7 linked regions of the Homo sapiens genome follow. The protein of the gene in region 4 purifies or fractionates together with the protein of the main gene of each other region. This does not show direct contact. Each region holds a gene or a part of one and is shown on either strand. Other genes may lie near its edges.

Region 1 (3,119 bases), on a different chromosome or scaffold from region 4:
GATTTCAACTTTCTCTGTCATTAGCCTTTATGAATCACACTGTAGCATCTGTGTTTTCCCGTTACCATTGCTGATCTGTATCTTTTGCCTAAGGGAGAACGCTTCCCGGAAGGTGAAGGGGAACATTAAGCTTGATCGTGAGTTTGCTCAGAGGTATATGCTGCAGTCCTGACTCATCGTGGCCCAGAGCCAGGAGCTGGGTCACAGGAAGCACTAACTGGCCTTTCTCCCTTGAAAACTCATGATGCCTTTGCATGGGGGGGGAAAGAAGCCACCTTTGTGGTCTGAGGAAAGCAAGACATTTCATTTAGGGAACAGACTGGTGTCTTAGAACCTCAGAATGCAAGAGGAAGAGGGGGCTTTAGAACCCTCCTCATGTCAGAGATGGGACAAAAGTTGAGAAAGGGAAAGGAATCTTCCCAAGGTCATACTGCTAGTGAGGTAAGCAGGACCAGACTTTTGGTCAGAATATGCATATTGAGATTTTTTCTTTTGTGACAGAGTTGGGGATGAGCATAAGTAAAGAATCAATGTAGGAGAGCCAGCTTGGAGCATAGGAAGAGATGGTCGTGAGGAAATATGTGGTTAGGATATCTCCAGCCTTATCCTAGAAAGACAGTATTCCCTGATTTATTCCAGGCAAGCAAAGCTTAGTGAAACTTAACCATCTCCACTCTCCTAGGGAGCTTCTGATCTGCAGCTTGATCTTTCAAATAGGCCTATCCCCCAGGAAGAACACTGATCAGTAGAACCTAACAAACTACTGTCTAGTATAACTCAACTAACAGTATTTAATGATGAACAGAGCTGTTCAGCCCTGGTGAGGACAATAGCAAGGGTCTAGACTTGCAGGGCGAAGCATAGATAGACCGAGGCACGAAAAGTTTTTGTGGTCTTGCAGTTGTAATCTTATAAGGGTAGCTGGCCCTATCCCCTAGTTCCCAAAGCAATGAGGGAGAGGGTTATGAAGTTACCTGAAAGCAGCAGCTTTTGGTCTCAGCTCCCAGGATACCCTTCTCTTAAGTCCTGGCCTTTGCATGTAACTTGTCACCCTAACACTACCATGGTGTGAATCTGGACTCCCATGGAAGGTTCTTCTGTTGGTGATATCTATGTTCCCATTCTCTTATCTTACTTAGTTCTCAAAACCTGCCTTGGATCCAAGTTCCTACTGCTTTACTTTAGTTACCCCGATTCTAACTTGGGATCTTTTTGGTCTTACTCATGACGCTCACTGTGCAGCCAAACAACACCAAATTAAATCCATCTTCCTCTCTGCATTCGATGTGCTGAATGGCAGCCACATACCCATCTAATCACAAACACTAGGCACTCTCTTCTAGTGGGACAACCCGTTTAAAAATAGACATTTTTCTATACCTGAGGATCGGCGTCTTTCTCCGGCATGGGACCAAAGTGATTGAGTATCCGATTCTTTAGGGATAATTTGAGCGAATGAAACCACAATGATGCTTGCTGATAGACACAGTTATGTAATCCCATGAGCTCAGCACAATCCTCTCCCTGAACCTGAAAGTATCAAAGTGGAAGTGAAACATTCTGTACCCTCTCCATCATTCCCAGAGTCACTTTTGACACCTGATTCGCTTTGAGCATCCATCCTGCCTTCCTATGGGAAGGCTCACCCATTCAGCTTTCTCCTTTGCTTGATGTGAAATGCCCCTTAGTCAAGTGCTGGACAGTGTGTAGATACTGCTGACCATGGAGGAAGGAGAAAGGTTCAGCTGGGTAGATTAGCTGAAACAGCAAAACATGCAGAAAACCAGAGATTCAAACCGGCCTGAGTGGAGGCATGTGGTTAAACCAGGTTATGCTGGTCCATGCCTTTGCCCTTTTCATTTTTACATCTGTTTTCTCATTACTTGCTGGAAAAGACACAGGAGTATGTCAGTCTCAGCATGTAACTATCTTGGTCAAACACATTTACTCAGTCATCAGATATTTATTAATCTACTATGTAACAAATGTAAATATAAATGAATATAGGATTATTTACCTCTTCTTCCACCCATTACCTCAGAAAACCAAGGATTAACTAGATGTGTCATCTTTCTGCCTTAGGGGATGATGGATTATTGGGAAGGGCTCTTAGCCAGGTTACGTACTTTAAAATACAAATGCATGTGTGGATCTATAATTGTCTCAAAAGAAAAAAGTTTAAAATATACATAAATCGATAGATAAAATATATATGTATAGACCCACCCCAGATCCATTCCTTGCAATCTTTGGCAGAGACTTAACTCCCAAGCTGAATGAGCCCCAGGGTTGATCTAGGATAACATTTCCTATGCATGAATGCAACTCAGCAGCTAAGCAGAGCCAGGACAGTAGGCGCCCTCACTGCCATAGTGCAACTGGACAGCAATCCAGCAGCATTCAATGTTGCTGCAGCAATTTGGTGTGAAATCCCAAGGCCCTCAAGGGTTCTGAGAAATCCTTTCACAACTATCTTTGTGTATCAAGTTACAAGGATAGCCTGGCTTTGGGATTCTTGGCACTGGCCACCCTTACCTTTTGGTCTTCAATGTATTCAATGTCGGCTGTGTTGTAGCCATCCCGCTGGCTCTGATGGAGCACCCTGAAGCGCCTCTTGCCTATGCTGTCAACCACTGAGCGGCCATCAGCAAAGAATTGAACATTTCTGATCTCTAGGATGCAGCCATATTCTGCAAACCTGTTTATTGAGAATGGAGTCGAGAGACTAGATCCTTGATGAGTTCTGTTTCCCTGGGCTGGCACCCAGCCATTTCTGTAGCCCCATGCTGTGGCTCAAGGGACTTCTGCCTATTTTCCTGTCCCTGGGTTACAGCTTCAATTACACAACAGGCAGTGCCTGTGTGAAGAAAAAAAATTCGTAATGTATTCGTGTAACTGCTACCATTTATTGAGCACATACTATGTGCTGTGCCAGTGCTATGGTTTGAATGTTTGCCTCCTCTACAACCCATTTTGAAATTTAATTGCTATTGTAACATTATTAAGAGGTGGGACATTTAAGAGGTGATTAGGCCTCCACCCTCATGAATGCATTAATGCTGATATGGTGAAAGTAGAGTAGGGTTGTTATTAATATAAAAGGGCAAGTTTGACCCCCT
Region 2 (3,500 bases), on a different chromosome or scaffold from region 4:
CATCTGGTTTTTAAATTTCTTCACCAAACACACTTAGAGTGCATGTGGTTTTCATTGTGGGTGGAGGGGGGGGTACAGGCTGACAAATAAGGAACCACACCCAAGCTTCACAAACCAAACAGAGGTTTTTTTTTTGTTGTTTTTGTTTTTTTTAATTCCTTTAGTGATACTCTAAAACATTTGAGTTTGCTTTGGTATTAGTCGAAACTTCCCCATAAAAAATAATGTGATATTTTATAGTAAGGTAGCTCTTAATGCAGTGTCTTAAATTTGTTTTTACTGATCTTTTTGGCACATGATGAATCAAAATGTTTGACTCTCAAGTAGAGTCTTAGTTTTGAATCTCTGCTCTGAAGGAATTATTTATGTGATTTTTGTCTGCGTATCTTTTTAAATAATTGCTTTTTAAATAATTTTAAGGCTTTTTTGAACAAGTGTTTTATAAGCCTTAGTTTAATCCACAAAACAATTTAAAAAGCTACTAAATATTAAGGGGGAAAACCTGAAAACTTTTCTTAAAATGCACTATCTTTGAAAATGGTCCTTGGCTGGGTGCGGTGGCTTATGCCTCTAATCCCAGCACTTTGGGAGGCCCAGGCAGTCAGATCATCTGAGGTCAGGAGTTCAAGACTAGCCTGGCCAACATAGTGAAACCCCGTCTCTACTAAAAACTAGCTGGGGGTGATGGCATGTCCCTGTAGTCCCAACTACTTGGGAGGCTGAGGCAGGAGAATCGCTTGAACCCAGGAGGCGGAGGTTGCAGTGCACCGAGATTGTGCCATTGCACTCCAGCCTGGGCGACAGAGTGAGACTCCATTTCCAAAAAAAGAAAAATGGCCCTTTGACTCTCATGATTCTTTTTTGCTGCAGCTGTGGGGGGTAGTAGAGACAGGGTCTTGCTATGTTACCCAGGCTGGTCTTGAATTCCTGGACTCATGAACTCCTGGGCTCAAATGATCTCTCTACCTCACCCTCCCAAAGTGATGGGATTACAGGCATGAACCACAGTGTTCAGCCTCTCCTAATTTTTACTCAGCTTTATATTGGGATGAAGAGACAGAGAAGTAGATCATATGAGAGGTAGGAATGGTAAGAATAAAATATTGAGCACTATTGGCCGGGCATGGTGGCTCACGCCTGTAATCCCAGCACTTTGGGAGGCTGAGATGGGCAGATCATGAGGTCAGGAGATCGAGACCATCCTGGCTAACACGGTGAAACCCTGTCTCTACTAAAAAATAGAAAAAATTAGCCGGGCGTGGTGGCGGGTGCCTGTAGTCCCAGCTACTCGGGAGGCTGAGGCAGGAGAATGGCACGAACCTGGGAGGCGGAGCTTGGAGTGAGCCGAGATCGCGCCACTGCACTCCAGCCTGGGCGACAGAGCGAGACTTCGTCTCAAAAAAAAAAAAATTGAGCGCTATTGCCAATGCTGGAGCAAGTCAATGTTAGTGAACAATTTGGCCAAGTGTGATAATACAGGTTAGCTGAAATATCTGGAGGAAAACAAGATTTTATTTTATTTATTTATTTTTTTTGAGACGGAATCTTGCTCTGTCACCCAGGTGGAGTGCAGTGGCATGATCTCGGCTCACTGCAACCTCTGCCTCCCGGGTTCAAGCGATTCTCCTGTCTCAGCCTCCCGAGTAGCTGGGATTATAGGCGCCTGCCACCACGCACAGCTAATTTTTGTGTTTTTAGTAGAGACGGGGTTTCACTCTGTTGGTCAGGCTAGTCTCCCAACTCCTGACCTCAGATGATTCGCCTGCCTTGGCCTCCCAAAGTGCTGGGATTACAGGCGTGAGCCACCGCGCTCAGCCGATTTTATTATTTATTTTTGAGACTGAGTCTCGCTGTGTAGCCCAGTCTGGAGTGCAGTGGCGCTATCTCGGCTCACTGCAACCTCTGCTTCCCAATTCAAGCAATTCTGCCTCAGCCTTTGGAGTAGCTAGGACTACTGGTGTGTGCCACACTCCTGGTTGAAAACAATATTTTAAATTTAGGAAAAAAATATTCTATAACTTATCTAAACACATTGGTGGTGTTTTTTTCTTGTGTAAAATGAGGAAATTAAGATCTCTTGTTTTTAAGGTATTGCTGCTTCTACCACTAGAATCGTGATTCAGGTTTTTTGTCATATTGTTCCCTTTATTTTAAGACTTAAAACTTTATTTTAACTTGTAAATTCAAATAAACGGCAAACATTTATCAAATACCTTAAGGCTGTGTCAGAGCATATATGTATCAGATTACCATTTTTAATCATAGATTTTTCTTTTAACTGTGGATAAACTTAAAAAGTTATTGGTAACAGTATATGCTTATGGAAGAAAATATAGAAAAACATGGGCTGGGTGCAGTGGCTCATGCCTGCAATCCCAGCACTTTGGGAGGCCAAGTTGGGTGGATCACTTGAGGTCAAGAGTTTGAGACCAGCCTGACCAGTGTGGTGAAACCCCGTCTCTACTGAAAATACAAAAAAAAAAATTAGCTGGGCACAGTGGCTGGTGCCTGTCATCTTAACTACTTGGGAGGCTGAGACACGAGAATCGCTTGAACCTGGGAGGCAGAGGTTCCAGTGAGCTGAGATTGAATCATTGTACTCCAGCATGGGCGACAGAGTGAGACTCCATCTCAAAAAAAAAAAAAAAGAAAAAGAAAAACATGGAAAAAGCACAAGCAAGAATAACATTTTCTATTCCCACTACCTACAGGTAAGCCACTAATAACATTTTGATGATATGTTTCTAATAATTATGTGCATATACAGTAAACACATAAAGAAAATTGAGATCGTGATATACATTCTGCTTTGTAATGTGTTCTGTTGACTTAGAGTGGAAACATTTCCTCTGACATTAACTATTTGGACATATTTTAATTGTCTGCACATTATTTTATTGAAGGGCTTTTTCATACTGAATTAATTCTATTGTGTATATTCAAGTTATCCCTAATTTCCCTTTGTGATTACAATGCTGCATTGCACCTCCTTGTGATGAATTTTTATGGGTCTTTGATTTCTTCAAGGTAGATTTTTAGATGGCAAAGAATTGTACTGTATGCATACTGTATATTTTTTTTTAGGTCTCACTATGTTGTCCAGGCTAGTCTTAAACTTGGGGACTCAAGCAGACCTCTGTCTTGGCCTCCCAGGAAGCCAGGATTACAGGCGTGTGGTTTACTATATATTCTTAATTTATCTATATGGTATTGTGATCTTGTTCTCTTTTTAAAAATGCAATATGCACTTGCACTAATATGTTTTAAAGATATATTTGTGGGCTGGGCACGGTGGCTCACGCCTGTTATCCTCAGCACTTTGGGAGGCTGAGATGGGCGGATCATGAGGTCAGGAGTTTTGAGACCATCCTGGTTAACATGGTGAAATCCCGTCTCTACTAAAAATACAAAAAATTAGCCCGGTGTATTGGTGGGCGCCTGTAGTCCCAGCTGCTTGGGAGGCTGAGGCAGGAGAATGGCGTGAACCTGGGAGGTGTAGG
Region 3 (3,500 bases), on a different chromosome or scaffold from region 4:
ATCAAGACTATCCTGGCCAACATGGTGAAACCCCATCTCTACTAAAAATACAAAAATTAGCTGGGTGTGGTGGCGCGCGCCTGTAGTCCCAGCTACTTGGGAGGCTGAGGCAGGAGAATCACTTGAATCCAGGAGGTGGAGGTTGCAGTGAGCCAAGGTCACGCCACTGCACTCCAGCCTGGGCGACACAGCGAGACTCCGTCTCAAAAATATATATATATATCAAAAAGTAATGCAACTGATCTTTGTATGCTGCTCTTCACTCAGCAATCATGCTGAACTCTTATTTCAAATAGCTCACTTTGTAGAATCTGTTGGATTTTTTTTTTTGAGACAGGGTCTCGCTCTGTCACCCAGTCTAGACCTCCTGGGCTCAAGGAGTCCTCTTGCCTCAGCTTGCTGAACAGCTAGGACTGCAGGTGCGTACCACCACGTCAGCTTTTTCTTTTTCTTTTTGGTAGACAGGGTCTTGTTTTGTCGCCCAGGCTGCTCTCAAACTCCTGGCCTTAAGCAATCCACCTGCCTTGACCTCCCAAAGCGTTGGGATTATAGCCACCATGCCCAGTTTGGGTTTCTTTATAAACAATTGTCTCCAAAAAAAGAGAAATGTCTGTCCCTTTGTTTGGTTAAGTTTTCAAAAAAAATTATTAATTTATCAAATTCGTTTCCTGCATCTATCAGTTCTTTCAGATACTATCCAAAATTTTTCTTAATCTGCTTTCCTCCTTCTATCTGTTAATGTGATCTGATCATCTGTAACACATTTGTCCTATTACTAAATAGCCTCCCAAAGCACAGAGGAAGCTAACTTCATAAAAACAAACTTACTGTCTCCAAAGCTATCATCACCTCTTCTAGGTGGGTAGTCATCAAAGCTGTCTGTAGCAGGACGAGCCCTCCAGTCTGTATCTGTTTTGTCAGAATCCCGATTTCTATCACGGCCAAAAGAACGATCATCCCTGTCTACAGATACATTAAAACAAAAACCGTAAGTTATCTCATAAAAACTTTGCCCAATATTTCTCACACATAGAAAACCCCCATTTTACCCTATTTTTCACTTTCACGTCACACTGTCATCCCAGTTACCTCAGGCCCCATAAGTACATGCTCCAATTCAACCCCAGGTGGCTCTTTTCCTCCCGTTTTTTCCTATTGGTTTAATGCTTAGCTATCTCAAATTCTGTATGGGCCAGGAGTCCCTGAAACATATACAAATTAGGTCCCCTTTGTGACCAACGTGCTGTTAGGCAGCTAATCTATTTATCATCTATTTAATGTTCATCTAGATCAATCAGTCTTCTCAATCTTGACATGCATTTTGGGCTGCATAATTCTTTGTTGATGGGGACTGTCCTATTCCCTATAGAATTAACCCCTGGATTCTACTTATGTCAGCAGCACTCCCTCCAATTGTGACAACTACAATGTCTTCAAACATTGCCAGAAGTCCCCTGTGGGGCAAAACTGATTGAAAACTGTTACTGTAGATTCAGGCAGGCCCACCACTACCCCTATTCAAATTTTCTGGGAAAGGATGGCTTGGTGTCATCCTGGGACCATTACCAAACAGAAATCTCTACCAGTTTCCTTACCTTTATCCTGTGCTTGATCAGCAACGTCCACTCGAATTCTCCTGTTACCTAGAGACTGAGAGCATAGGACCATATTAACCAACCTTTTGCCCCATTATGCACAAATCCCTTGAGTGACCTTGAACGTCTGGGCATAGCAGAAGCACTAGGGGAAGGAAGATAAAGGAAAACACTGTAATCTAGCTAACACTCCAATTTGTGGGCTAAAGAGTCCTTTAAAAGACTTAAAAGTTAAACAAATTTAAGCTGGCCTTGAATATTAGGTCAATTATACTATTTTTACAAAGCTTAATTTCACAGAATAGAATTAACTTTTTAACTATCCAAGGTAATTTGTCAAGTGTAGTAAATTAAAAATAATTCTCACATAACTAGCTGAATAAAAGGCATATTTGGTGCCACAACAATTATTTATCAAAATTTATAGAAGCCAGGTGCAGTGGCATGTACCTACAGTCTCAGCTATTTGGGAGGCTGAGGCTGGAGGATCACTTAAGCCCAGGAGTTCAAATCCAGCCTGGGCAATATAGCGAGACACTGTCTCTTAAAAACAAAAACACCCAACACATTTATAGAGCCTCTACTACTACTATGTACCAGCAAAATTGCATAAAGCATGCTTTGTCTACAATCTTAGGTTCTTTCACTCAGTATTACCTTCAGATAAATCAGTTCTTCCAGAGATACCCTCTGACTTCCCTTTCCCACATCATTATTTATATACTTTGAACCCAATTAATTCTATTGCTGATTTTTCCTCATTTCATAGTAGAATCTACAGTTGAAGGATAACAATGATTTTTAGTTAAAAATACCCAAAACTATATTAAACACCACTATAATGAAATCTCTAGTAACAAAGTAACTCTTAACTATGGACCACAACAATATATTAATAGTTAATCTAGTAAACATCAAATAGTTAACAATTGCATGGTATTCTTTTTCTTATCCAGACTGAGTAAAGTTAGAGACCAGTAATGTTAATAAAAATCTAAAAATAATCCAGTAAGAGTAACTCTGGAACAAGATTAGACCTTCATATGCATTTAACTAAGTACATTAATTTTTATCTCTATTTCACACTGACTACAGGTTATCATGATGGTAATCAATTATGAGGCAGCAAAACTATTTCTAAGAGGTGTTGATTTCAATCATGTCATATGGCAAAATAGGACTACAGAAATATGGCACAAATGGCACTAGAAATTGCCTTATCAATAAACAATAAGGTGTTTTTGGAGTTAAAGGAGGAAAAAAGTCTTTTTTCTTCTGAGATATAAGCCCCTCAAGTCCTGGGACAGGAAAACCTTTGTGGGCAGTGTTGACAAGCAGAAGGACTAGATATTTATTGTCACTCTCCTGTAAAATATTCCTTTGTAGGAAATGTTTCCAAATCCTCTTAAATGAACAAATATACCATTACAACACTTCCCTGAAAATGAGATATGCCTTTAATACTAAACAAACTTGATTTTTCTATTTGCCTTTATCAGGCCAGATTACTTTGAAAAAGCAATGCCATAAGAGTTGAGGCAACACTGTGGGTAAATCAGTGTAAGACTTAATTAGAGACCTGGTGTGTGGTGGGTTTCTTCCACAACTTTCCACCTAAGTACCTATCTAAATTATTGGGGCCTACTGAATTTGCTGAAGTGTGACTTGCTAGATGTTCGATGTTAAGTGATACACTGTTAAATAATGCAGGCCTTTATTTGTAGATATGGGAATCTTTGAAGTGAGCCTCTCAACCTAAAAAATACCAGTTTGATCAATAAACATGAGATTTGTGAACTTACACCCCTCATATCCCCACTCTTATTTTCTTTACCTCTTCATTGAGACTCAGGGCACTGAGCAGGGAATCCAGGTCCTCAAATTCAGCATAACCAAAACCTTTCA
Region 4 (3,500 bases):
CTTGAGTTTTGCCTTACTCTATGAGTTTTATAAAGCGGTATTGGTAACGCCTTCCTTCCCCTCATTTAGAACAATGAGACAGCACAGAGACCTTACGTGGTTAAAGCTATCTTCTATTTCCTTTCTTTCTTTTCTTTCTCTCTCTTTTTCTCTTTCTTTCCCTCCCTCCCTCCCTCTCTCTCTCTCTTTTTTTTTTTTTTGACAGAGTTTCGCTCTTGTTGCCCAGGCTGGAGTGCAATGGCACAATCCCGACTCACCGCAACCTGCGCCTCCCGGGTTCAAGCGATTCTCCTGCCTCAGCCTCCTGAGTAGCTGGGATTATAGGCATGCGCCACTATGCCTGGCTAATTTTGTATTTTTAGTAGACACGGAGTTTCTCTATGTTGGTAGGCTGGTCTTGAACTCCCAACCTCAGGTGATCCGCCCCCCTCGGCCTCCGAAAGTGCTGGGATTACAGGCATGAGCCACCGCACCCGACCTTCTTTTTCTTTTTTTTTTTTTTTGAGACAGAGTCTCACTCTGTTGTCCAGGCTGGAGTGCAGTGGTGTGATCGGCTCACTGCAGCCTCTGCCTCCCAGGTTCAAGTTATTCTCATGCCTCAGCCACCTGACTAGCTGGGATTACAGACACATGCCACCATGCCCCACTGATTTTTGCGTTTTTAGTAGAGATGGCATTTTGCCATGTTTCCCAGGCTGGTCCCAAATTCCTGGCCTCAAGTGATCCACCCGCCTTGGCCTCCCAAACTGCTGGGAATACAGATGTGAGCCACTGAGCCCAGCCATTTCTTTATTCAGACTGTACAGCTGCCACTGTGATACTGGGGACTAAGCAATCTTAGACTGAGTGTTAAGAATTTTAGTATTGGCCGGGTGCGGTGGCTCACGCCTGTAATCCTAGCACTTTGGGAGGCCGAGGCGGGCGGATCACAAAGTCAGGAGATGGAGACCATCCTGGCTAACATGGTAAAATCCTGTCTCTACTAAAAATACAAAAAAATTAGCCAGGCGTGGTGGCATGCGCCTGTAGTCCCAGCTGCTGGGGAGGCTGAAGCAGGAGAATGGTGTGAACCTGGGAGGCAGAGCTTGCAGTGAGCCAAGATCGTGCCACTGCACTCCAGCCTGGGTGACAAAGCAAGACTCCGTCTCAAAAAAAAAAAAAAAAAAAAAAAAGAATTTTAGTATTGCTAGTCATAATTCTTTGACTTTTCCTCCTATTTCCCACCTCTTTTAGGTGGAGGTTCCAGTTTACTAAATGGAAACATTTCTTCTGAGAGGATCTGTTCCCTGGATCTACTTAAAAAGCTCAGGGTTAAATGAGAAGGACCTAACCCTTCTCATATAGCCCACCAAGGCTTGTATCAAGAACATTAGATTACTTCCATGATTGCTTTTAATTCTGACAGTCCATGAAATGGTCATAAGGTATGGGTTGATAAGGACATGGTTCTCTAGTATTACAGTTCACCCTAATATGTTTTAAATTCTCATTTCTAAGGTTAAGTACTAACCAATCTGCTAATTTCCTCTTGTCTATCTGGTGCAGATCTTGCTGTTGCCTTGATCATAGTGGAAGTCTGATTGTCTGTTAGCTTCTTGATACATCGTTGCCCTGCCACAATATTACAGACCTACAAATGGAAAAAAGTTTTGTACTACATGTATATATCTTTTTTTTTTAGCTCTTACTTAGTGCCAATTACATGTAAATAAAAATTTAAAATCAACTTCATTAAACCACTTATTTTCAATATGTTAAGTAAAAAAGTAGTAAACAAGACAGCTCTACAGTAATTAAGTATAATTAAGTAAAATGTACACCAGATGAAGACTGAAAGAAGTATAGTATACCAAAATGTTAACAGTGGTTACATTAGAGTGGTAGGATTATGGATGAACTTGTTTCGTGTTATTTCATTACAGAAAATTTAGAATAAATTAAAACTTAAAAACAGTTCATATTCCAAAATAAATGTTCTGTATGAGGTAAGTTATCGGCCATAAAAGACCCCAAAAGAATCATGAACAACAGGGTATTAATTAGCAGTGTGAAGGCATTACTTCTAGTGGCAGGTAGGTGTGTTTCTGTTCCTGCCCGACTTGCAGACAGGGAAGGTGCGGGTACTTCAGCTGAAGAGTATACTTTTCTCTGAAATACTGCGCTACTGTTCTCTCCACAGTTTGGCCGTTTTCTAACTGTAAAGGAAAGCTGAGGAAAAAAAAGTACACATGAACAATTCTTGCCCATTATGAGCCAGAAAAACTCCCAACCCCACTAACTAGAGCAAGCTGCCTCACACCATCGCTGCTCTGACAAACTTTTCTTACGTTTGATGACTGGCAGGCCTCCTTGTTACATTACAAACACGGTATTTCCGTCTCATTGTTCCACAATGAGTCACTTCAACCTTCAAACCTGTTCCCAACAAGAAAAATGGAGGTTACAGAACTGTCACATGTAAAATATTTATACTTATAAAGCCTGTTCATTACCATAAAAACTCAATTCTGAACAGACAAAAAATTCTGTGATACAGGCAAGATGATATAAACACCAGATTTTACATATAACATTGCTAATAATGGTCACAGTCATGACAGACCTAATGGCAAAATTTTTCCTTACCCCATCAAGCTCTACACATTAAAAAATAAAATCATAAAATTTGCAAAGCCCATAGATCAAGGGCCAAAATCTTCCATTAATAAAAAATCCTGTTTATAATAAATTCAGGTATTTATGCTGGGAGAGGGAAGGAGGAATGAAAGAGGAGATCCAATAATTCTCAAGGTATTCCATAATTTCAAATTATGTGATATTTACCTAGCCCAGTCATCACATACTGCTTGAAGATCAGAATTTTGTAAAGCTCAAGAAAGAAGTCCTTTAAAGATTTATAAAGCAGGAGAAAAAAATTCCAGGCATTTTTAACAGAAGCAAAGTGACACTTTTATAGAGGTATAATATAGTGACACAGCTCTTTTCCAATACTATTAAAAATCAAATGTAACCAAAATAATTCCTAAAGTAGGTGATCCCTACCCTCTTATGGAGTCAAGATCCCTTTGAGAATCTGATGTAAGCAATAAACTCTCAGCAAAATGCACATATACATAATTTAGCACATGATTTTAGGAGTTCTTGGATCCCTGCCGTCCATCTGTGGACTCTAGGGGTTCAAGGATCCCAGGCCTGCTCTAGAATGTGAAGAAATGGGCTTTAAGCTGTTGGCTGAAGTTCTTCGAGATGAATTTTCTGAAGCAGTGCTGTCAAAGAGAATTTTCTTGAGGTGATGGAATGTTCTACATTTATGCTAATATGGTAATCACTAATAACATGTTACTAAGCATAAGAAATGTAGCTGGTGTACCTAAGAAACTGAAAATTTAATTTTATTTAGGTTTTTTTTTTTTAGTTTTTTGCTCTTGTTGCCCAGGTCAGAGTGCAATGATGCAATCTTGGCTCACTGCAACCTCTGTCTCCAGGGTTAATGTGATTCT
Region 5 (3,500 bases), on a different chromosome or scaffold from region 4:
GTTCACATCAATCTGTACTATTCAGAACAAAACCAGTTCTGCTGGCAGAGATTGTGGGTTCGCAGGGACATTTAAGCTTTCATTAAACTGGAAAGCAATCAAGTCTTTATGTCTACAAATAATACATTTCATAGTTCCACAAATTTGGCAGAGTTTGTGATGACATCTAGGATGTTTTCACCAAATCGTAGACATAAATATGGAAATCATCATCAAACTTGATGAAATAGACGGAGGGCTTGGCTTCTACTTGATGAATGACCATGCCAGTCCTTTTCGAGCCATCTTCTTTGGCATATTCCACTTGTTTGCCTACCAGGCTGTCCACAACTTCTCCTGGTTCCCTTTCTGCTGGAGGTGAATCATCTATATTAAAAAAAAAAAAAAAAAAAAAAAGAGAGAGAGAGAAAATTTCTAAGTCAATTTTTAGATATAAATCAACTCACATATTTATTTTCATAACTTAAAAAAAATTTTAATAGCCTGAATTCATGATTATCTAGACCAGGAGTCAGCAAACGTTTTCGTAAAAGACAAGACAGTAAATATTTCAGGCTTAGGGTCATATGGTCTCTGTCCCAACTGCTGAACTCTGCCACTGTAGCACAAAAGCAGCCACTGATGATATGTATATAAACAGATGTGGCTGTGTTCCAATAATAAAACTTTTTTTCATAGTTTGCCGACCTCCATCTAGATATATGAACAATTTTGAAAATCATAACCAAAAATTTCTTTGGCCCATGTTTAATCTGTAGCTGCACTTAAATGAAAATAAGTTTGAGTGGCTTTGAAATATAATTTGAAAGCAGACAATTCCTACAGGGATTACTGAGAATATGGCACACATTTAAAATGCCTAAGTACCATTGGTTTTACTCTGTGAATCCTTAAAGCTTCTTCCCCCTCAACTTCACTGCATTTCACATCATCTTCCTAACTCAGTTCCAAAATTTAAGCTTTCCATGCTTTAAAAATTGGTGCTGAATGAACTTCAGCCCAGGACAACTACAAGGGAATCTCTGAGGATGGCACAGGCATCTGTACTGTTTAAAAGGTCCCCAAGATTAATGTACTGCCTCTAGCCTCTAAGAAAACACACAGAAACAGCAAACCATCACCACCAACAACAAAAAAACAAAGTAAAAGAAAAAAAAGAGAGGGGGTTTGCTAGGCAATTATAATTCTATTTTAAGAAACTCTGCATGGGTTCTGAAAAACTCGAAGCTCTTTTCCTCGTAGTAGCAGGTGGCCTTCAGGTAGGGCAACCAGAGGATCCAGCTACATAAGACAGTCCATGTTATCCTGGCACAATTGGTAGTAATGTCATTTTACTCTCACAGGTATCCTGGTGTAGACCATATAATGTACATGTATTAATAGTAGTCTGCCTCTTCGGTTACAATAAATTCTCTCACTGAATGACAATCCAAAAACTGCTACTGTGATCTCTGGTACTAAGAGTCACAAGAAATAAAAATAAAACATCTGAGCATAATCAATTCTTTTAAAAGAAATAAAGAAATATAAGCTGAACTCTTTTCTTTAAAAATTCTCTTCCCTTAAGCAGTATCATCATACTGCCATATTTTTGTGGCACGTTTACAAAAGAATTACAAATACACAATCGCACGTGAATTTTATAGTAACTCAGCTAACCAAGGGAGTCATGTAGAGGCCTGTTTTACCATCAGAGCGGGTACGCGACCAGGACCCTTTCAGAAATCATTAGATCAGAGCATCACCACTGTTTCTAAAGGTAATAAGCTTCCATAGCGCGTGCACACACACACACACACAAGTTTGGAGAATTAAAGGAGAGGGAAGATCAAAAAATGGCTAGGAAAAGCGATGCAGAATTGCAGACGCCCTTGCATTTCCTATGATTAGGTTAACAGGACTTGCTCTATTTATCTATAAAAAAATGTTCAAGTCACCTCATACAGGTTGGAGAAATGCTTTTTAAAGAAATGTTCTCATGACAAATTCCTGAGTATGTAAGTTGCATTACCCCTTTATAACAAATGTACACAATTTTTTTTTTCTTTTTGAGACGGAGTCTTGCTCTTCTCGCCCAGGCTGGAGTGCAGTGGTGCAATCTCGACTCGCTGCAACTTCTGCCTCCCGGGTTCAAGTGATTCTTCTGCTTCAGCCTCCCGAGTAGCTGGGACTACAGGCGCCCTCCACCACACTTGGCTAATTTTTTTATTTTTAGTAGAGACGGGGTTTCACCATATTGACCAGGCTGACCTCGAACTCCTGACCTCAGGTGATCCGCCCGCCTCGGCCTCCCAAAGTGCTGGGATTACAGGCGTGAGCCACCATGCCCAGCCCAAAAATTTTAAAAATATGTATTGAAGAAGTAGAAATTCAAGGCCAGATGAGGAAATTAGTATGTTAACTAACTTATTCATAGGAAGAATTTTTTTAAAAAAAGAAATAAAGATGACTGACGCATGGCTAATGTATGGAGAGGGCCTACCAGTTACATCTGTCCAAGGCCAGAGATTCATGTGTTTGAAGAAAGGCCACTGAGTAGTTTTTAAAGGAACAAGCTTATCCAAAAGTGAAATTAAGAAAACAATTCAATTCATATGCACAATGGCATCAAAAAGAATAAAATCCTTAGAAGTAAATTTAATAAAAGAAATGTGGAGCCGGACGCAGTGGCTCACGCCTTTAATCCCAGCACTTTGCGAGGCCAAGGTGAGAGACACAAGGTCAGGAGATCGAGACCATCCTGGCCAACACAGTGAAACTCTGTCTCTACTAAAAATACAAAAATTAGATGGGCGTGGTGGCGTGTGCCTGTAATCCCAGCTACTCGGGAGGCTGAGGTAGACGAATTGCCTGAACCTGGGAGTTGGAGGTTGTAGTGAGCCAAGATCGTGCCACTGCTCACCAGCCTGGCAACAGAGCAAGACTCCATCTCAAAAAATAAATAAATAAAAAGTGGCCAGGCGCGGCGGCTCACCTGAGGTCAGGAGATCGAGACCAGCCTGGTCAACATGGTGAAACGCCATCTCTACTAAAATACAAAAATGAGCTAGGCGAGGTGGCATGTGCCTGTAACCCCAGCTACCCGGGAGGCTGAGGCAGGAGAATCGCTGGAACCTGAGAGGCAGAGGCTGCAGTGAGCTGAGATCAAGCCATGGATTAGAAGACTTATAAAGTCTTGTTAACATTGTTAAGAGGGCAATACTCTTCAAAACTGATCTACAAATTCAACATAGTCCCTGTCAGAATCCCAGGTGACTTCTTTGTTCTGACAAGTTGATTCTAAAATTTATATGAAATTGCAAGGGACCCAGAATAGTCAAAACACTCCTGAAAAAGAAAGGAGGGGCCGGGGTGCAGTGGCTTACACCTGTAATCCCAGCACTTTGGAAGACTGAGGTGGGCAGATCACTTCACCCCAGGAGTTTGAGACCAGCCTGGCCAATATGGCAAAACCCCATCTCTACTAAAAATACGAAAGTTAGCCCAATGTGGTGGCGTAT
Region 6 (2,545 bases), on a different chromosome or scaffold from region 4:
CAGGGCCCAGAACCACCTGTCCTTGAGAGCTAGGATTAGTTGGAGGGACATGTATGTGACCAAGTGGTGGCAGTCCCTGAGGCTGCCTTACACACCTGGACGTATCCACATAGCCAGAGATTCTCCTAGAAGTGTCACACATCTAGGGCTGTCGCCTACCTGGGAACTTCTAACCAGATCTCTCTGACCATAACCCACAGAGTATGACCTACTCTGTTTTTTTACACCTAGAGTACAAGGTCTCAATCATGTTTGTGTAGGAAGCATTTCTGTTTTCAATCCAGGGAAAATTGCAAACCCCCACTTTCAGGGATTCCTGAAGAAAAGGCACCCAATAACTTAGGAATATTCTTTCATTTCCTCTCAAAAAACGTTCGTTGGAGTCTGTGGTAGGCTGACTAATGCTCCTCCTGTTACCGGTGGAGGGTGTCCAGGTTCTTGGCGTCTTGATAAAGAAATGGACAAAACGCACAAAGCAAGTAAAGAATGAAGCAACAAAAGAGATTTATTGAAAAACGAAAGTACGCTCCACAGGGTGGGAGCAGCCCAAGCAGCTCAAGAACCCGGTTACAGAATTTTCTGGGATTTAAATACCCTCTAGAGGTTTCCCATTGGTTACTTGGTGTACACCCTATGTAAATGAAGCAGAGGTCCATGATCAGTTTGATTGGTTGTGGGAGGGGACCAATCAGAGGCTGAAGCAAAGTTACAAAGTTACACCACCCTATACAAACATCTGACTGGTTGTGTAAAACGCCCAATCAGAGGCTGAAGTTACAAAGTTATACTCCTAGGCAAATGAAGACTTGGCCTAAGACCAGTCTGATTGGTTGTGGGAGGGGATCAATTAGCGATACTTTCAATTTTTCACCTGCCATGCAGAAAAGGGGCTGGGGGTGGGGAGGTTGCAAAGGGAGTAGCCTCTGGTCCTTTTGTTACTTGAGCGTGGAAAGTTGGGGTTTTCCTTTTGACTTAGTTCTAGGAAGTCAGCCTGAATTGGCCTTAGGAAGCCAATTCCATGCCTCCAGACCCTATCTCCTGCTTCCCTCCCCTTCAGAGATGTCCCTGTCCTCCTCACCAGAACCTGTGAATATCTTATTCTGCAAGGTAAAAGAGGCTTTGCAGATGTTATTAAGAATCACAAAATGGGAGATTATTCTAGATTATCTGGATGGGCGTAATCCCAAGTGTCCTTACAAGGAGGCAGGGAGGGTCAGAGAGGAGGTGTGACAATAGAAGCAGCCAGAATGATGCAGCCACAAGCCAAGGAAAATGGGCAGCCTCTAGAAGCGGAAAAGGGGCAAGGAATGGGCAGCACCCTATAGCACCTCTGGAAGCAATTCGCTTCTGCCGACAACCTTTGGCTCGTGTCCAGGATGACAGAATGATATATTTGTGTTGTTTTAAGCCACTGAGGTTGTGGTAATTTGTTAAGAGTGGCCATAGGAAACCAATACAGACTTCAACAGAGCAGCAGTGAGCTTCTCCTCACAGCCTCCTGTGGCTTTTTGACTATGTAGCTTTGATGAAGAAGTATACTGATGGACAATTTACTGCCTCCCATCAACCAGAGTAGTAGAGTGGTCAAGACAGCACCCTCTGGATGAGATGGCCTGGGATGGAGTACTTACTGTTTATTTCACCCTTTTGTGTCTCAGTTGTCTTGTCTATCAAATGAGGGATGATAAAGAACATACAGTCCTTGGAATAACATCTGCTATGTGATGAGCACACGGGAAATGCCAGCTATTACAGCTGCTACTGCTTCATCACAGCACTTAGAACCAGACCAGATACCCCACTGCCCAGTCCCACATGGCCCAATGCCCAAGGCTGACTCTTAGGACTATGCCATCTCCTCCCAATCCCTGGTGCCAGGATGCCTTGCTGGTAGCTGGAAAGTGGCCATGGCGGGAATATTTACATCATAGGTATCAGCAAACACTCCATATCAAGGCTTTTTAATTTTTTGCCCCAGAGGGCTGGTTTGCCAGCACACCACAACTCCAGACCGCCTTTTACCCTGATTGCATCTTCACTCCTTATACCATCAAGGTCTTAAGCAAATAGCAGCCCATGTTGGCAAAATCAGACTAGCCATTCTCTCATCACTTAAAAAGAAAAAAAAAACTTTTATTCTGGTGTAAGGTGCTATGACTATGAGTATCCTCACTCCCAGCTTTCCCGTGTCCTTGGCACGTCAGACCTGGTAGCCACAAGGACTACACTGGAGTCTAGAACAAACTCTTTCCCCACCCCAAGGATTCTAACCACACACTTGGCCCCAACACTCTACAAGTCCTGTCTTCCTGCATGTGGCTGTCTCAAACCTGAAGGATCACTCGCCTTGAGGATTCTTTGGTCATAACCTCAGAAGAGAAAAAACAGTAACATTCACAAGAGAGACAAAGTGACCTTACAAGTCACTGCATCAGGACCTTACAAGTCTCAATCTTAAAGGTCCAGTAAAAGAAACTGCTGATTCTTGGGATATGATTCTCCAAGGCCTCTCACATTTTTATACATCTGGTAAGAATAGACACCA
Region 7 (3,500 bases), on a different chromosome or scaffold from region 4:
TTATTCCAGAGTGACTGTAATGACCCCCAAATTATAGAAGGAAATAGAAACAAGTCAGTACAAAGATCTAAATTTCACCATATATGAGAGATCTCTGTCCTCTCTTAAATCATCCAGCCTTCGACAAGTTATTTTGCCAAGGACCTACTACATACCAAGCACCAAGGAAACAAAATGGTGAGCAAAACAGACACAGACCCTCTTGAGCTTCCTGTCTAATGACTCAGCCACTGGATTCCACTCAGTGCACAAGATATAAAGAGCTCACACCTACCATTGCCAACCTGTGGAGCAATGGCTTCAGCCTCGGGCCAAGGTGTATTCTTGAAGAATCTTTCAGTCAGCTTGGTCCAGCTAAAAATCAAGAAAAAAATCTCTAAAATTCCAAAAGGACTGGAGAATGCCAATCCTAACATTTTACAGATGAGGACCCAGGCTTAGAAAGGGGAAGATGTCAAATAAACAGAGCTGAGGCCAAAGCCCTTCAAGCCCACAACTGTCCTCAACCCAACTCCACACTTCAATCTTTCTCAACACAAGAAAATATTGTTTTTGTATCAGTTAGGGACCCATCAAGCTTTTCAGGATAATCTCCTGCCTCTGTATCATTAACTATAGCCATATTTAACTGCTTGCTGTTTTCTGCTATAAGAACTACTTTTTTGGCCACCATTCTTTAACACAGCGTTTCCATCTCCTGGAGCACATCCAAACGTCTCTAAACACAGAAGCAAATCAGTCTGCTGCAGTCCAAGGCCACAACAGACCTACAGCATCCAATTTAAACACTGCTGCCTATCCAATCCAAACACTGCTACTTGACAAACCTGCAACAGGTTGTTTAATTTTCTTCTCCTGATGCCCTCAGCAGCTATTAATACTTTCCTCCAATCTCCTCAAGCCCCACCCCTCCTGCTTCTCTGGCTCTTTTAGTCCAACATATAAACATGCTCAAGTTCCCCTAAAAAACACTGAACAGGCCAGGCATGATGGCTCACGCCTGTAATCTCAACACTTTGGGAGGACAAGATAGGGGTATCGCTTGAACCCAGGAATTCAAGACAAGCCTGGACAATATAGGAAGGCCCTGTCTCTACGGGATGGGGGTTGGGGAGAAACACAGAAACAGAACAGAAAAGAAACACTGAAACAGGCCAGGCGCGCTGGCTCACACCCGTAATCTCAACACTTTGGGAGGCTGAGGCGGGTGGATCACTTGAGGTTAGGAGTTCCAGACCAGCCTGACCAACACGGTGAAACCCCGTCTCCACTAAAAATACAAAATTAGCCAGGCATGGTGGTGCACACCTATAATCCCAACTACTTGGGAAGCTGAGGCAGGAGAATCGCTTGGAGCCAGGAGGCGGAGGTTGCGATGAGCTGAGATTGCGCCATTGCACTCTAGCCTGGGCAACAAGAGCGAAATCCTGTCTCAAAAAACAAAAAACAAAAACAGAAAAAACACAGAAACAAAACACAAAGCCACTCAGTGACCCTTTATGTCCCCGATACTTACCAATTCCCCTTTCTCACCCCACTGCTCTCTGGCTGTTGCTTCCATCACTCTACTGACATTGACCTTGCTAAGGTTATCAAGGCCCTCCAAGTTACCAAATTCAACTGGCTTTTTTTCTCATCTGGACCTCACTAAAACATTTGGTGATACTCTCTTCCTCAGTTTCTTCTGCAGACTTTTTGGTTCCTGTGACATTTCTTTGCCAATTTACTATCTACTTTTCACTTTTCTTTCTGCCTCCTTTACTAGATCCTTTCTTTGCCTGCCCACCCATCCCTAAAGAAACATACTTCTTAAGGCACCAGCATTTCTTCTCACATTCTCCTAGAGAAAGACTTACAAGATGCTTGGCTTCAACTGTCATCTGTATCTGCGGGCACTGCCCAATGCAATAGCCACTAGCTACATGTGGCTACTATATAAGCAAAGAGTTAAATTTTAAATTTCAGTTAGTTGCCATTTAAGTTTAAAAACCAACACTTAACTCAGTATTGGAAAACTTTTAGGTCTATTTGGAATTACTCTACTATTTGAAGATTCAAATTTCAAATTTGAATTACTTTTCCAGTCATAAACTCTATAAAATCTAAACACAAAGCAAGTATTTCTGATACACACTGGATTTAGGAAACTTTAAGTATAAAGAAAAAAAAGGGCAAATATCCCCTTAATTTTTAAATACTGATTACATATAGAAATAATATTTTAAATAAATCTCCACTTCGCTTGGCTGAAAAATTAAAATTAATGTCTAGCTACATTTCTATTGAACATCAGGTCCATTTTTTAATTTTGAGAGAGGGTCTCGCTCCATTGTGCAGCTCACTGCAGCCTCAACCTCCCAGGCTCAAGTGATCCTCCCACCTCAGCCTCCCAACTAGCTGGGACTATAGGCATGCTGCCACCATGCCCCAGCTAATTTTTGTAGGCGCTGATTTATATACTTCTAATCAGAAAAGACCCGGGGAATAAAGAAAACACAGTTCAGCACACTTGCCTTTCAGGTCACCCACCTGGCCCTCTTCCAACTGTCCTTTCCTTTCTTTCATTCCTGTTCTAAAGCTTTTTAATAAACTTTCACTCCTGCTCTCAAACTTGCCTCCCTCTCTTCTTCTGCCTTGTGCCCCTCAGTCGAATTCTTTCTTGTTAGGAGTCAAGAACTGAGGATGCTGTCGACCCGTACAGATACAGACTCATCATCAGTAGCATTTTAGCCCTCAGTGTAATTCTTTCTTGTGAGGAGGCAAGAACTGAGGCTGCTGTAGACCTGTACAGATACGGACTCATCATCGGTAGCATTTTACCCCTCAGTCGAATTCTTTCTTTTGAGGAGGCAAGAACTGAGGCTGCTGGAGACCTGTACAGATACGGATTCATCATTGGTAGCATGTTTTGGTGTTGTGTCACTTCAACACCCTTCAGCTGCTAACCTCTTTTGGTGCCGCATGACTTGGATCCATTTGCTAGTGGTGAAAGACCTCGATGCTGCACCTTCTTCGGCTGGAGGTGTTCAACCTCCGAACAAGGTTTTCTCCCTTTCTCTCTCCTCACTAACTAACCCCCAGATCAATTCTTCTTGGTCATAAGTGACTCTGTTCCCATTGGCTGATCTCTCAGCTCAACCTAATGGGTGGCTTGCAGGGGCGGGAAGGACCTTGGAGTCCACACCAAGTAGAACTTAGGCTCACGAGAGTGGCAGGGGTGAGGCCTAAAACCATGCAATGTCTGAGGTTTCCTCTGCTTTTCAACTACAATCAGCTCTTTCAAAACAACAAAAAAAGAAAACACATGTCAGAGATCCTATTCATTGATCAATAGGCCTTTGGCTATTTGTTTTCTCTCCCTCATCCTTCTGACTTGCTTAAATTCTATTTCCTTGGTGAAGTCACTCCTGACTATCCCAGCTTTGACTGACCTATCTTATCTCTAACGCTCATTACACAACGGCAGCCCCTCAAAACCTGCGGAGTTCAGCTTGCTCTGA

What was found.
Region 1: the proteins of AGO3 (region 4) and LONRF3 purify together in Homo sapiens (affinity purification with mass spectrometry; 3 studies listed by BioGRID and IntAct, with this or other methods). This does not show direct contact.
Region 2: the proteins of AGO3 (region 4) and STK38 purify together in Homo sapiens (affinity purification with mass spectrometry; one study listed by BioGRID and IntAct). This does not show direct contact.
Region 3: the proteins of AGO3 (region 4) and EIF4B purify together in Homo sapiens (affinity purification with mass spectrometry; one study listed by BioGRID and IntAct). This does not show direct contact.
Region 5: the proteins of AGO3 (region 4) and SPIN1 purify together in Homo sapiens (affinity purification with mass spectrometry; one study listed by BioGRID and IntAct). This does not show direct contact.
Region 6: the proteins of AGO3 (region 4) and LIMD1 purify together in Homo sapiens (co-immunoprecipitation; one large-scale study listed by IntAct). This does not show direct contact.
Region 7: the proteins of AGO3 (region 4) and EIF3L purify together in Homo sapiens (affinity purification with mass spectrometry; one study listed by BioGRID and IntAct). This does not show direct contact.

Annotation. Positions count from the first base shown.
Region 1 is NC_000023.11:119,012,618-119,015,736, reverse strand, and holds part of LONRF3 (LON peptidase N-terminal domain and RING finger protein 3), read right to left. Parts: intron 2,858-3,119; coding exon of another isoform or gene 2,836-2,857; exon of another isoform or gene 2,699-2,835; coding exon 2,536-2,698; intron 1,531-2,535; coding exon 1,381-1,530; intron 1-1,380.
Region 2 is NC_000006.12:36,540,980-36,544,479, reverse strand, and holds part of STK38 (serine/threonine-protein kinase 38), read left to right. Parts: exon of another isoform or gene 1-2,711; intron 2,712-3,500. UniProt on the Homo sapiens protein: Serine/threonine-protein kinase that acts as a negative regulator of MAP3K1/2 signaling. Converts MAP3K2 from its phosphorylated form to its non-phosphorylated form and inhibits autophosphorylation of MAP3K2.
Region 3 is NC_000012.12:53,019,956-53,023,455, reverse strand, and holds part of EIF4B (eukaryotic translation initiation factor 4B), read right to left. Parts: coding exon 3,430-3,500; intron 1,651-3,429; coding exon 1,596-1,650; intron 964-1,595; coding exon 829-963; intron 1-828. UniProt on the Homo sapiens protein: Required for the binding of mRNA to ribosomes. Functions in close association with EIF4-F and EIF4-A. Binds near the 5'-terminal cap of mRNA in presence of EIF-4F and ATP.
Region 4 is NC_000001.11:36,007,605-36,011,104, reverse strand, and holds part of AGO3 (protein argonaute-3), read right to left. Parts: intron 2,416-3,500; coding exon 2,328-2,415; intron 2,209-2,327; coding exon 2,061-2,208; intron 1,727-2,060; exon of another isoform or gene 1,631-1,726; coding exon 1,511-1,630; exon of another isoform or gene 1,234-1,510; intron 1-1,233.
Region 5 is NC_000009.12:88,471,944-88,475,443, reverse strand, and holds part of SPIN1 (spindlin-1), read right to left. Parts: intron 367-3,500; coding exon 167-366; 3' UTR 1-166. UniProt on the Homo sapiens protein: Chromatin reader that specifically recognizes and binds histone H3 both trimethylated at 'Lys-4' and 'Lys-9' (H3K4me3K9me3) and is involved in piRNA-mediated retrotransposon silencing during spermatogenesis.
Region 6 is NC_000003.12:45,681,751-45,684,295, reverse strand, and holds part of LIMD1 (LIM domain-containing protein 1), read right to left. Parts: 3' UTR 1-2,545. UniProt on the Homo sapiens protein: Adapter or scaffold protein which participates in the assembly of numerous protein complexes and is involved in several cellular processes such as cell fate determination, cytoskeletal organization, repression of gene transcription, cell-cell adhesion, cell differentiation, proliferation and migration.
Region 7 is NC_000022.11:37,852,419-37,855,918, reverse strand, and holds part of EIF3L (eukaryotic translation initiation factor 3 subunit L), read right to left. Parts: intron 355-3,500; coding exon 275-354; intron 1-274. UniProt on the Homo sapiens protein: Component of the eukaryotic translation initiation factor 3 (eIF-3) complex, which is required for several steps in the initiation of protein synthesis.